2 separate regions of the Homo sapiens genome follow, and region 2 is linked to region 1. Evidence: fine-mapped expression QTL. A gene starts in region 1. The other region holds a variant in brackets. All regions are shown on one strand. Distances are from middle to middle. Region 1 holds the start of RNF44 (ring finger protein 44). Region 2 overlaps CLTB (clathrin light chain B).

Region 1 (5,000 bases):
ATGAGGCTGGGGTACCCGTATATGCCAGTGAAGGCTGGACGTCTGCGCACTTAAAAAAGCCAAACCCCTTCAGCCAGGAGGGGAATTACTGAGTGAGACACACAGCGATTGTGACAGGACTGTGTGCAAATTAAATGGCATGAGGTAAAGGCTGGGGTGCATCTAGCTCTGCGTTCAAAAATGGGGGATTCAGCACAGCTGGAGATGTCACAAGCAGCTTCCTGTAAAAGGTGAGTTAGGAACAGAGCTTCAAACCGCCGAAAAGTGAAATGGATTGGCAGAAAGGAAAAGAGAGGGCATCCCAGGCAGGCAGTCTAGCCTGAGCAAAGGCAGGAAGGTGGCAGGGAGAGAAAGCCAGACGAAGCACCACCATGGTGTGAGAGGAGGGACTGGGGAGAGGCGAGCCTGAAAAGTTCGGGCAGGAAGAGCTTGTTAAGTGCAGCCCCAAAACCAGGCTTCCATGCAGTTGGCAGTAGGGAGCCACTGTAGGCCCTATCCATAAGGACAGGCAGGCAGTAATCTAACAAATATGTAGGTACCTTCAAATGTGGGGAGGGTTTTTTTTTTTTTAAGACGGAGTCTCGCTCTGTCACCCAGGCTGGAGTGCAGTGGCGCAATCTCAGCTCACTGCAACCTCCACTTCCCATGTTCAAGCGATTCTCCTGCCTCAGCCTCCTAAGTGGCTGGGACTACAAGTGCATGCCACCATGCCCAGCTAATTTTTGTATTTTTTGTGGAGACAGGGTTTCACCATGTTGGTCAGGCTGGTCTCAAACTCCTGACCTTGTGATCTGCCCGCCTGGATCTCCCAAAGTGCTGGGATTACAGGCGTGAGCCACCGTGCCCGGCCATGGGGAGGGTTTTCAAATTGCTTTTATGTGGTGGGGAAAACAAAAGGTTGAAGGAGACATTGGAGGTAAAGGAACAGTTGATGATAAGGAACTGGGTAAAGACATAACCTTGTATAGCCACACTTATTCTCATGCACATGTAATTTTTAACTGTGATGGATAGAGTTTGGCGTTCCAGGGAGCATCGATAGCACTGCATCATGACCTTGCTCTTGTGTTGCTTAGAGATCTGCCGACAGCCGGCTCAGTTCCATCTTCAGTCATTGTGTTGCACAGTGATACGATCATTGCTGGTCTAAACATTGCCATAAACATGTCTGTTCCCCAAGCTGAAAGGGGGTTTCTGATTCTAAGGGAACAAAAGGTTTTCTGGCTTAAAAGACTTAAGACATAGTCTTTATAATAGCTTTCTTTAAAAATTTCAGTGGGTTATAATGCATAGGGTTTTTAAAAAAGAGCTAATGTGCAATATATACAATAGTCTATCCTACTGACCCAACTTCTCCCTTCCAGTTCTCCCTAAGGACAATTGTTAATCAGTTTCCTGTATACCCTTCCAGAAATATATGCAGATGTGGCATATGTCCAATTAAAGAAACCTGATACATACTGTTAGAACTGTTCAGCATCTTGGTTTCAATTTTTATATAAAATTTAGGATTACGAAATATACCAAAGCAGCATAGAAAATGAGCCCCCCATCCCCCTGCCCCATGGCCCACCACACAGGTTAACAGATGTTAACATTTTGCATTGGCGCCTTGTTTATGGCTGTCTTGGAGATAGCCCCGTGTCGCCTCCAGCTGCCTCTTTGTGGTAACTGCCCAAGAGTCGTTATTGATTATATGCATGCACCCAATATTCATTATTCGACCTGTTCCAGCTCTTGGATATTTAGCAAATTACTGATTTTCTGCTTATATAATTGTGGTGGAGGTAATACCCCATTTTGTATAAATTTTGCCCGGGTGGGTGGGCTTCGAGGCAAAGGAGAACGAGGCTCGGCTTTGGATTAGGTTCACACTCCTGCTCCGCCACACTTCTAGTTGTGTGATCTGGAGTAAGGGAAGGCCCTCACTTTCCCCATCTGTAAAATGAACTGGCTATAGTAATCCCTCCGTCTCATAGCTGCTGAGAGGAATAGAAAACTAAAGTATAGACGCTTCACTGGGCTTAGTTCCCAGTTTCCCTGGCTAGGGAGGTCTCCGCGGGGACACCAAACTCTCAAGCCCAGCCTAGCAGCTAGAGCGCCCAGCGCCTGCACTTTTGCTTTAAACTACAACCTGTTCCCCGCCTCTCTTCCTCCACCGCCACGCTGGGGGCGTGGCGGTTAAATGTCTCTGTGACGTCAGCGCGAGCAGGGCCAATCTCCTTGCCCGGCAGACGTTAGCTCGTTTGCATGGGTGGTCCGCCATTGGTCTGTTGGGCAATCTGGGCCGTACCAGCTTTTTAAAGACGCCGTGTAGTATAAACAAGGAGAAGTGGGGCGGCCGGGCCATGATGTCAGCGCGGTGCTGCAGCTCTTGGGGGTGACGTCATCTCCGGGAAGGTGGCCGGCCCAGGGTTGTTAGAGCCAGCATAACCACTTGGGCCGCTCTCGCCCCGTCAGAGGTCAGACCCATTGCACTTCAGTATCTCAGGCGGCACCCTGTCCCCGAGGAGGGGACCATGACACAGTAAGTCCGTACTGCCGGTTCTCCTGGCGGGACCCATTTCTTCGGCAGGGAAACTGAGCCTCAGAGGCGCGAGTAGTTAGCGAGTTTGCATAGCAAGTTCGAGTTGCAGCCGATCGGTTTTGCCCACCCTGGGGTCTCCCCATCTTTATGTCAGGATATGCGGCCCCGCCCCTTGCTTTTGACTATGGCTGCGGTCCCTTTAAGTGCGAAGGTGGGGGCGAGGAGGAGGTTAAAAAAATTCAAGATGGTGGCCCACTAGTCACGTGCGTGGTCGCGGCGAGTGATTGGCTCTCAGGGCGGAGCTCCCGGCGCGGGGCGGGGCCCCTGCGGGCTTGCAGCGGGCTACTGTTTGCCGGAGCCTCCCGGCGCGCCCCCGCGAGCCCCCTCCCGTCTGGCGCGCGACCCCGCCGCTTCGAATGTTGTGAATCAAATGTGGGGTTTGTTACATTCCGCTGCCGCCGCGGACAGTTCTTAAAGGGCCAGCCGCCGGCTGCCGCGCAGACCCAGCTGCGTCCTGCGCCGCCTCCCGCTCCCTGAGGGCCTGGGCCGAGAGAGACTGATCGCGCGTGGGCCTCGCGAGGCAGACGCCGTCGGGCGGACAACAAAGAGAGAGGCCCCGGAAGGAGCCGGGCTGCCCCCGGACCCGGGGGTGGGGAGGGGAGCACATTGTTCCGCAGGGCGGGAGCTCTTAAAGGATCCAGACAGGCACCCCCCCCCTCCCCCGCCCCCTGCCCAGTTTGGCCGTCCTAGATCGGGAACAAAGGAGTCAACGTGTGGCCGGGCGGCCAAAGGTGAGTCGGTGCCAGGGCCCCCAACTTCCTATTCCCCCACCCATGGACCTTCTGTTCCCCTCCCCTGGGAATGGGGGCCGTGATCTAGGTGGCTCCGTAGGGGTTAATCACGGGCGGTCCAGACTGCGGGCAGCGAGACCCCAGGGATCAGGAACCCCCCCCAAGGCCCCCCGTGGCCGGGCCGTATCTCCCCTCTCCTGCAGCTGAGCGCTGCGGTTGGAGAGGAAGGAGCCGCCCCCCTCCCCCTGCGGCCGCCACTTCCTTTGTTGTTGCTTTTGTCTCACGCCGAGCACATGGTCCGGGATCCTCGGCTCTTAAAGTCGCAGCGTTCTGGCCCCTGCGCTGCAGTCTCGCCTCCCGCCCCCGGTGTCCCTCCGAGAGCGGCGCAAAAGAGTAGGAAGCGGACGAGGGAGGCCCCTCTCGGGGCTGTGTCCGCGCCTCGGCCCCCCAGCACTATGCCTGGGGAGGGGTGGCTGGGTAAGCTTCCCAGAGCCCCACAGCGTGCACTTGGCCCGCGTTGGGGAGCCCCCCCTTCCCCAGGACCCTGGTTTCCTCCCCCACTAGTGTGACCACCTGGTTTCTTCTGGACTCTTCTGGTTTTATTTGGGCGCTGTGGGAAGGAAAGATTTCCACCCCCATTTTATAGCTGTGCCAACTGAGGCGCTCAGAAGCAAAGGGATTTCCTTGACCAAGGTCACTAGGGAGTCTTCTCTCCTAGTCTGGTGGTCCGGCCCTCAGCGGCCTCCAGGCACCACACGTTGGGAAGCTCTGCTTGCGCTGGGCAGAGCCTGCTTGTTTCGGGTGGGGTGTGGGGAAGTAGGAAGGGGGGCTTCTCTTCCTGGCTGAGTCTGCTCATGCCCCCAGGGTCTGACTTTGTTTTTATCTGCAAAAGGGAGTGTCTCTTCCTGCAAACAGATCCCTGGGGCTCTTAGACCAAGGTCAGGGTAGGTGCTTGGGGCACTGGACTTAAGGGGTTGGCCGGCTCTCATGGGTGGGTGTGGGGGGTTATGTTAACTGCAAAATGCATTGCGTGCCTGGGGCGGACGGGGCTCAGCGACGGGACTCTCAAGACCCGTTCACACAGAGCTCCGTGATAGGACAGCATGGAGATGTGGACGGGCAGAGCAGTTGTTAGGGGAGGCCACCTGGCCACCCTTGCTATTTGACCTTGAGCAAGTTGCTAGCTCCAACTCTGGGCCTTGCTTGCTTCTCTGTACTACAGAGCTAAAGATGGGTGCCTGAAAGAGAGTGCTCTCCCAGCCTCCTGTATGGCTTGGAGACTCGGGATTAGGTGATTTCCTCCAGCTACTGATGCCACAGGAGTTATGGCTTGGGGGAGTTTGGGCCTAGGAGGCCAACTAGGACCAATTCCGTTCTCTCTGGTCTTGTGGCCTAGAGTAACTTACTTCCTTTCTCTCGGCTCCAGTTTTCTCAGCCATGAAGTGGGTGTAACCCTTCTACGCCACCCCTGTTCCTGGCAGGGCTTAAAGAACCAGGATCCACTCTTACCAGCTGAGGTATTCCCCTAGAGTGGCATATCTGCCTGCTGCCCCGGAAGTGGCACCCTTCAAGCTCTGCTTGAGGTTGGAAATGGAGGTCAGCGTGTCGTATTCGCTAATAATGATCATTCACACCCAAGCTAAGTTCAAACTTTACAAGTTGCTTCTGCTGTTGCCTTGGAG
Region 2 (5,512 bases), 130 kb after region 1:
TGGGAAGTGAGTCAGGAATGGGCAGGGCCAGATTGTAGAGATCCTCATGTTCCAGGGTTAGATGTACTTATCTGGCAAATATTTATTGAGTCCTTGTTATGTTCCAGGGACTGTTGTAGGTGGGCCTCATCATGGATGAAACCAAGTCCACACCCTCATGGAGGGTCTGTTTGTTGGGGGAAGACAGATAATAAACACATACACAAATAAACACAGCAGGCTGTAGTAAGTGCGCTTAATACTGCAGGAGGAATAGGAAGGGGTGCCCAAGGGGTGGATGGGGGTGTGGTCAGGGAGGCCTTTAATTAGGCAGCATTTGAGCAGAAGCTGAAGGGAGTGAGGGAGCAGCCTTCCAGGCAGAGGGAACAGCACCTGCAAAGTCCCCAAGGCAGGAGTAGGCGCTATAGGCCACTGTGGTCCATGGGAAGTGGATTTCTTTGGAGTTTGTTTTCATGACATTTTGAGTCAGAGGAGAGGCACAGGTAAGTGCATGTTTTACAGACTGTCAGCCCTGGCAATTGGTTTGAAAGAGGGATGGGAGAGGCTGGAGTCAAGGGGGCCTGTGAATGGGCAAAAGCCATGCAGTCGTTGTCTTTCTTTCATGCATGTATTTACTTGTTTATTCAACAAATAATTATTGAGCACCTGCAAAGTCACAGGTGCATGCAAGTCTCTGGGAAAGACACAGGAGAAGAGAAAGAGACACAGTTATGTCTTCCCAGGTGTTTGCCCCTAGCGGGCAAAGCAGTTGTGCAGGTGCAAGGTGGTGAGGTCCTGGGCTGGGGCTGAGCTGCGGGAGAGAGTGGAGGGCAACTGTGAATGTCAGTGTTGTAGCAGAAGCCCCAGGAATTTGTGACTAATCAAATGTCAAGGAAAGGGACAGGGAGGAGTCACTGCTGAGGGCAAACTTAATTCCTTCTGGGAGGGGCACAAAGAGAAAAAATATGCCAGGTGCTTCTGGTGGGAACTGCAACTCCTGCTCACCCAGGAGGAGCAGTTGCTCAAGGCGCCTCAGGGACAGGCAGAGACGCGTAGGCCCCTCTCTTCCTTATCCAGTGTAGCCCCTGCCCTGAGCTTACAGCAGCTCAGCCTACTCACCAGGCACAGGCTTCACAGGTAATCTGGCCATTCCCAGCCATGGCCAGGGGTCAGTGATTTCAGGTAGGTAAGGAGCTATTACTGGCTGGGTGATTTTGAGCATGGCCTCTCTGAGCCTCAGCTTGAGTATCTGTAAAATGGGTTGACAACAATTTCATTGCAGGGCTGTGGTGAACATAAAATGTACTAATGGCTGTGAGAGGCTTTATAAACAGTCAGGGGTGGGATTGAGCCTAAGTTATATATATATCCATTATGTCTGTTTGCATGTGGGTCGATATATACATGGGTATACACAGAGTTTGGGTTGAGGGGCTAATGTAGGACCATTTCCTGCTTGCTATAAGCTAAACAGTGAGTAATGCTATCTCCTTGTTCTCTTTCCAGCTGGTTCTGAGGACATGGGGACCACAGTCAATGGAGATGTGTTTCAGGTAAGCAAGGCTCTGTCTCAGCAGTGGTAAGGACCAACAGCCCTGGTCTCAGTAACCTAAAGCCTCATTGTTGTAGGCTTACAGCTCCAGGTTCTCCTGTTCATTATGTCTGATGCATTGGGGTGGAAACATAGAGAAAGGTTTTTGGAATTTTTTTTGTCATGTAGAGGGCAGGGAAGAAGAATAAGGACCACTAGAGATCGAGATTGATGGGCAGTAGCCTCAGGTTGCCCATGGTGATGTCTGGTTTTGGGAGGGAGAGGTCAAGTGGCCCACAGCAGCATGAGATGAAGGCAGCGCAAGGCCTTCCCTCACCACTGACGGGAGGCAGAACCCAGGCCATCTCCACACACAGGGCGGGCCCTTTGATCCAGAGATTCCACTTCCAGAATTTTCCCAAAGGAAATAATTGGACAAGGCCACCCAGATTCTTTGCAGGGTTATTTATAATGGCAGACAATTTGGAGACAACCTAAGTGTCCAGCATCAGGGAACTGAATAGATAGATTAGAAAACCAGGCTGTTGTTAAAAAGGGCAATCAGGGCCGGGTGCAGTGGCTGACGCCTGTAATCCCAGCACTTTGGGAGGCTGAGGTGGGTGGATCACGTGAGGTCAGAGTTCAAGACCAGCCTGGCCAACATAGTGAAACCCCGTCTTTACTAAAAATACAGAAAATTAGCCAGTCATTGTGGCAGGTGCCTGTAATTCCAGCTACTCGGGAGGCTAAGGCAGGAGAATCACTTGAACCCAGAAGGTGGAGGTTGCAGTGAGCTGAGATTGTGCCATTGCTCTCCAGCCTGGGAGATGAGAGTGAAACTCTGTCTGAAAAAAAAAAAAAAAAAAAAAAAAGGGCAATCAGATCTTCCTGTATTGACGTGAAAAGATGTCCACAATATATTAAGTGGAAAAAGCAGCTTGCAGAATAATATACACAGTATGGTCCTTTTTTTTTTTTTTTTTTTCAATTTTAAAAATATGTTTGGGCTGGGCGTGGTGGCTCATGCCTGTAACCCTAGCACTTTGGGAGGCCAAGGCAGGTGGATCATGAGGTTGGAAGATTGAGACCATCCTGGCTAACACGGTGAAACCGCACCTCTACTAAAAATACAAAATTAGCTGGGTGTGGTGGCACAAGCCTATAATCCTAACTACTTGGGAGGCTGAGGCAGGAGAATAGCTTGAATCCGGGAGTGGGAGGTTGCGGTGAGCCGAGATCACGCCACTGCACTCCAGCCTGGGCAACAAGAGCAAAACTCTATCTCAAAAAAATAAAACTAAAGGTTTGCACTACATATCTGAAAGGATGTGTACCAGCTGTTAACAATGGTTAGCCCCAAGGGTGGGGTGGGATGGGGATAAGAAAGGGGCATTCACTTTCACTGGGTTGTTTACAAATTCTTTAAGTGTTTTTATCCTGCAAAAAA[C/T]GAGGAAAACCCAGCCGGGCACGGCGGCTTACGCCTGTAATCCCAGATTTTGGGAGGCCAAAGTGAGAAGATCATGTGAATCCAGGAGTTTGAGACCAAACTGGGCAACATAGTAAGACCCCATTTCTGCAAAAAATGAAAAATTAGCTGGGGCAATAGTGTGTGCCTATAGTCCCAGCTACTCAGTAGTCTTAGGTGGGAGGATTACAGCTTGAGCTGGGGAGGTCCAGGCTGCAGTGACTATGATTACACTACTACACTTAGCCTGGGTGAGTCTTTTTTTTTTTTTTTTCCTGAGATGGAGTTTTGCTCTTATTGCCCAGGCTGGAGTGCAATGGCACGATCTCGGCTCCCTGCAGCCTCCGCCTCCTGAGTTCAAGTGATTCTCCTGCCTCAGCCTCCTGAGTAGCTGGGATTACAGGCACCCGCCACCACGCCTAGCTAATCTTTTGTATTTTTAGTAGAGATGGTGTTTCATCATGTTGGCCAGGCTGGTCTCGAACTCCTGACCTTCAAGTGATCCACCCACCTCGGCCTCCCAAAGTGCTGGGATTACAGGCACGAGCCACCGTGCCCGGCATGACAGTCTTAAAAAAAAAAAAAAGAGGAAAACCCTAGTAAGTGTATTTCTAGTTAAGACTGCTTCTGTCCGCACCCACCTAACTCTCTTCCCCTTGCATACACACAAATCCATTTTAGTACTCTGAGGGAACTCAGACCACAGAGGCATGCAATAGTCCTCACCTCGGCCCCCCAGCCAGATGCCTGGTGGGGCTAAACCTCCCCTCAGAGCCTTCATTCCCACTCAGACTGGGCCAAAGAGCCTTGATCCTGGGGTCTTTGGCTGTGGGATCTTCTGAGCCCCGCCCTGGAGGAGCTGGCTTCTTGAATCCTCTGGGGGAGTAAACAATACTTATTTTCTTATGTAAGAGGGATGGGCTGGTACCTTATGCAGGGAGACTGGCCAAGTCCTGTTTCTGGAAAATTACTCAACTATCAGCAAGCTGGAAAAGTCCATCTCTAGGACTTCAGCAGCTTCATGTCTAGTTGGGCCCGAGGGAGTCAAAGAATGAGGATTTGCTTCTGTGCAGCTTGGTAGATCATTAAGACTTAGGCTGCCCAGGCTCTCTGGCCACATTCAGAAGGACTTTGCTTGACCCCACAGTTCTGTGTCCTAAAGTGCACCTGGAGCTGGAGATATGCTTGGAACCACAGAAGTATGTAGAACATGGCCGGGCACAGTGGCTCACGCCTGTAATCCCAGCAGTGGGAGGCTGAGGTGGGTAGATCATTTGAGGTCAGGAGTTCAAGACCAGCCTGGCCAACATGGAGAAACCCTGTCTCTACTAAAAATACAAAAATTGGCTAGGCAGGGTAGTGGTTGCCTGTAATCCCAGCTACTCAGGAGGCTGAGGCAGGAGAACTGCTTGAACCCAGAGGCAGAGGTTGCAGTGAGCTGAGATCGCACACTGCACTCCAGCCTGGACGACAGAGCGAGACTTTGTCTCAAAAAAGAAAGTACCTAGAACACTCTGAGCTGGATCATTTACCTTTCCTAAAGATTAGCATCACGAAGCTCAGAGAGGTGAAGTGGTGAATGCAAAGTCACCCAGGAAATCAGCCACTTCTGGAGTGCACCCCATTTGACTTGGCCCCCCGCCTTCTCCCTCCCGACCTGTCAGCCGTGGGTGAGCTGTGGGTGAATCTGAGGAGCCCGGGGCCTCCTTTCCAATCTGAGTGAGAACTCTTATTCTCACTGTTACTAAGAATCACAGCAGGTGTGTTTATTTGTAAATCATATCACATCAGTGCCATCCGAGAATCCTTACAGGCAGGGCAGGGTCACAGATGAGCTGAATCACTCAGAAGCTTAGTGGCAAAGCCCCAGCTTGCCTACATCTCCTGGGCTCCGACCCGGTGTGCTTTGCATTACGACTCTGTTGCTGGAACTGGCTGGCCACAGCGCCTGGGTCACAGGTGGAAAGCCCCAGCTCTTTAGGATTGAGCATAGCAGGTCTGGCCTGCACCTGCAGGGGGAGGAGAAACCTTGGCCTGTGCACACCCAACACTTTCAAGGATCCCAGACAGAGCTTTTGTGCTTCCTTTCTTCCTCTTTTCTGCAGCCCGTGCACCACCAGCGGGTCCAGCTACAAACCCAGTTGCCAATACAGCCTAAGGACGAGCCTGCCCACAACTATTCCAGTTCCATTTGGCACAGCCAGGGGCAGGGACAGAAGGGCCCTGCAGGACTCCGCCTCCCCACCTCTGCACAGATCCTCTCTCCTTTCCCCTAATACTCCCATCATCCTCCTTTTAGCTTCTTAGAGGAATCAGCAGCTCAGCTTAGCTTAGATTTAGCTGATCAATCCCAAAGAAGGATGTGGCTCATCCTCTTGGCCATCCCTGGAGTCGCAGCACACGCTTGGCTGGTGTGGGTCCACAGAGGTTCTCATGGGTGGGCCCAGCAGAGGGGCCCCTCAGGAGAGGGATTCTAGGGAGCTAGACTGAGACAAGCCTGGCCCTGACTGTCGCCTCCTGCCTTCTGGTCCTGGCCA

The links.
Region 2: its variant is fine-mapped to the expression of RNF44 in whole blood (INTERVAL, PIP 0.96).

Annotation. Positions count from the first base shown.
Region 1 is chr5:176,535,258-176,540,257 of GRCh38, reverse strand. It overlaps RNF44 (ring finger protein 44), which reads left to right and starts at 2,856. Exons shown (of 11, transcript NM_014901.5): 1 at 2,856-3,318. LOC124901143 (a long non-coding RNA gene) reads right to left here and starts at 2,329. Exons shown (of 2, transcript XR_007059071.1): 1 at 2,135-2,329; 2 at 961-1,200. RefSeq lists enhancers at 1,863-2,042, 2,283-2,722 and silencers at 2,833-3,092, 3,173-3,362.
Region 2 is chr5:176,406,277-176,411,788 of GRCh38, reverse strand. CLTB (clathrin light chain B) reads left to right here. Exons shown (of 6, transcript NM_007097.5): 2 at 1,486-1,532. It also overlaps a transcript of ARL10 not described here. Among named protein-coding and RNA genes, the nearest start is that of CLTB, 7.5 kb to the left of the region's middle. The variant C/T (reference allele first, on the strand shown) is at 2,958.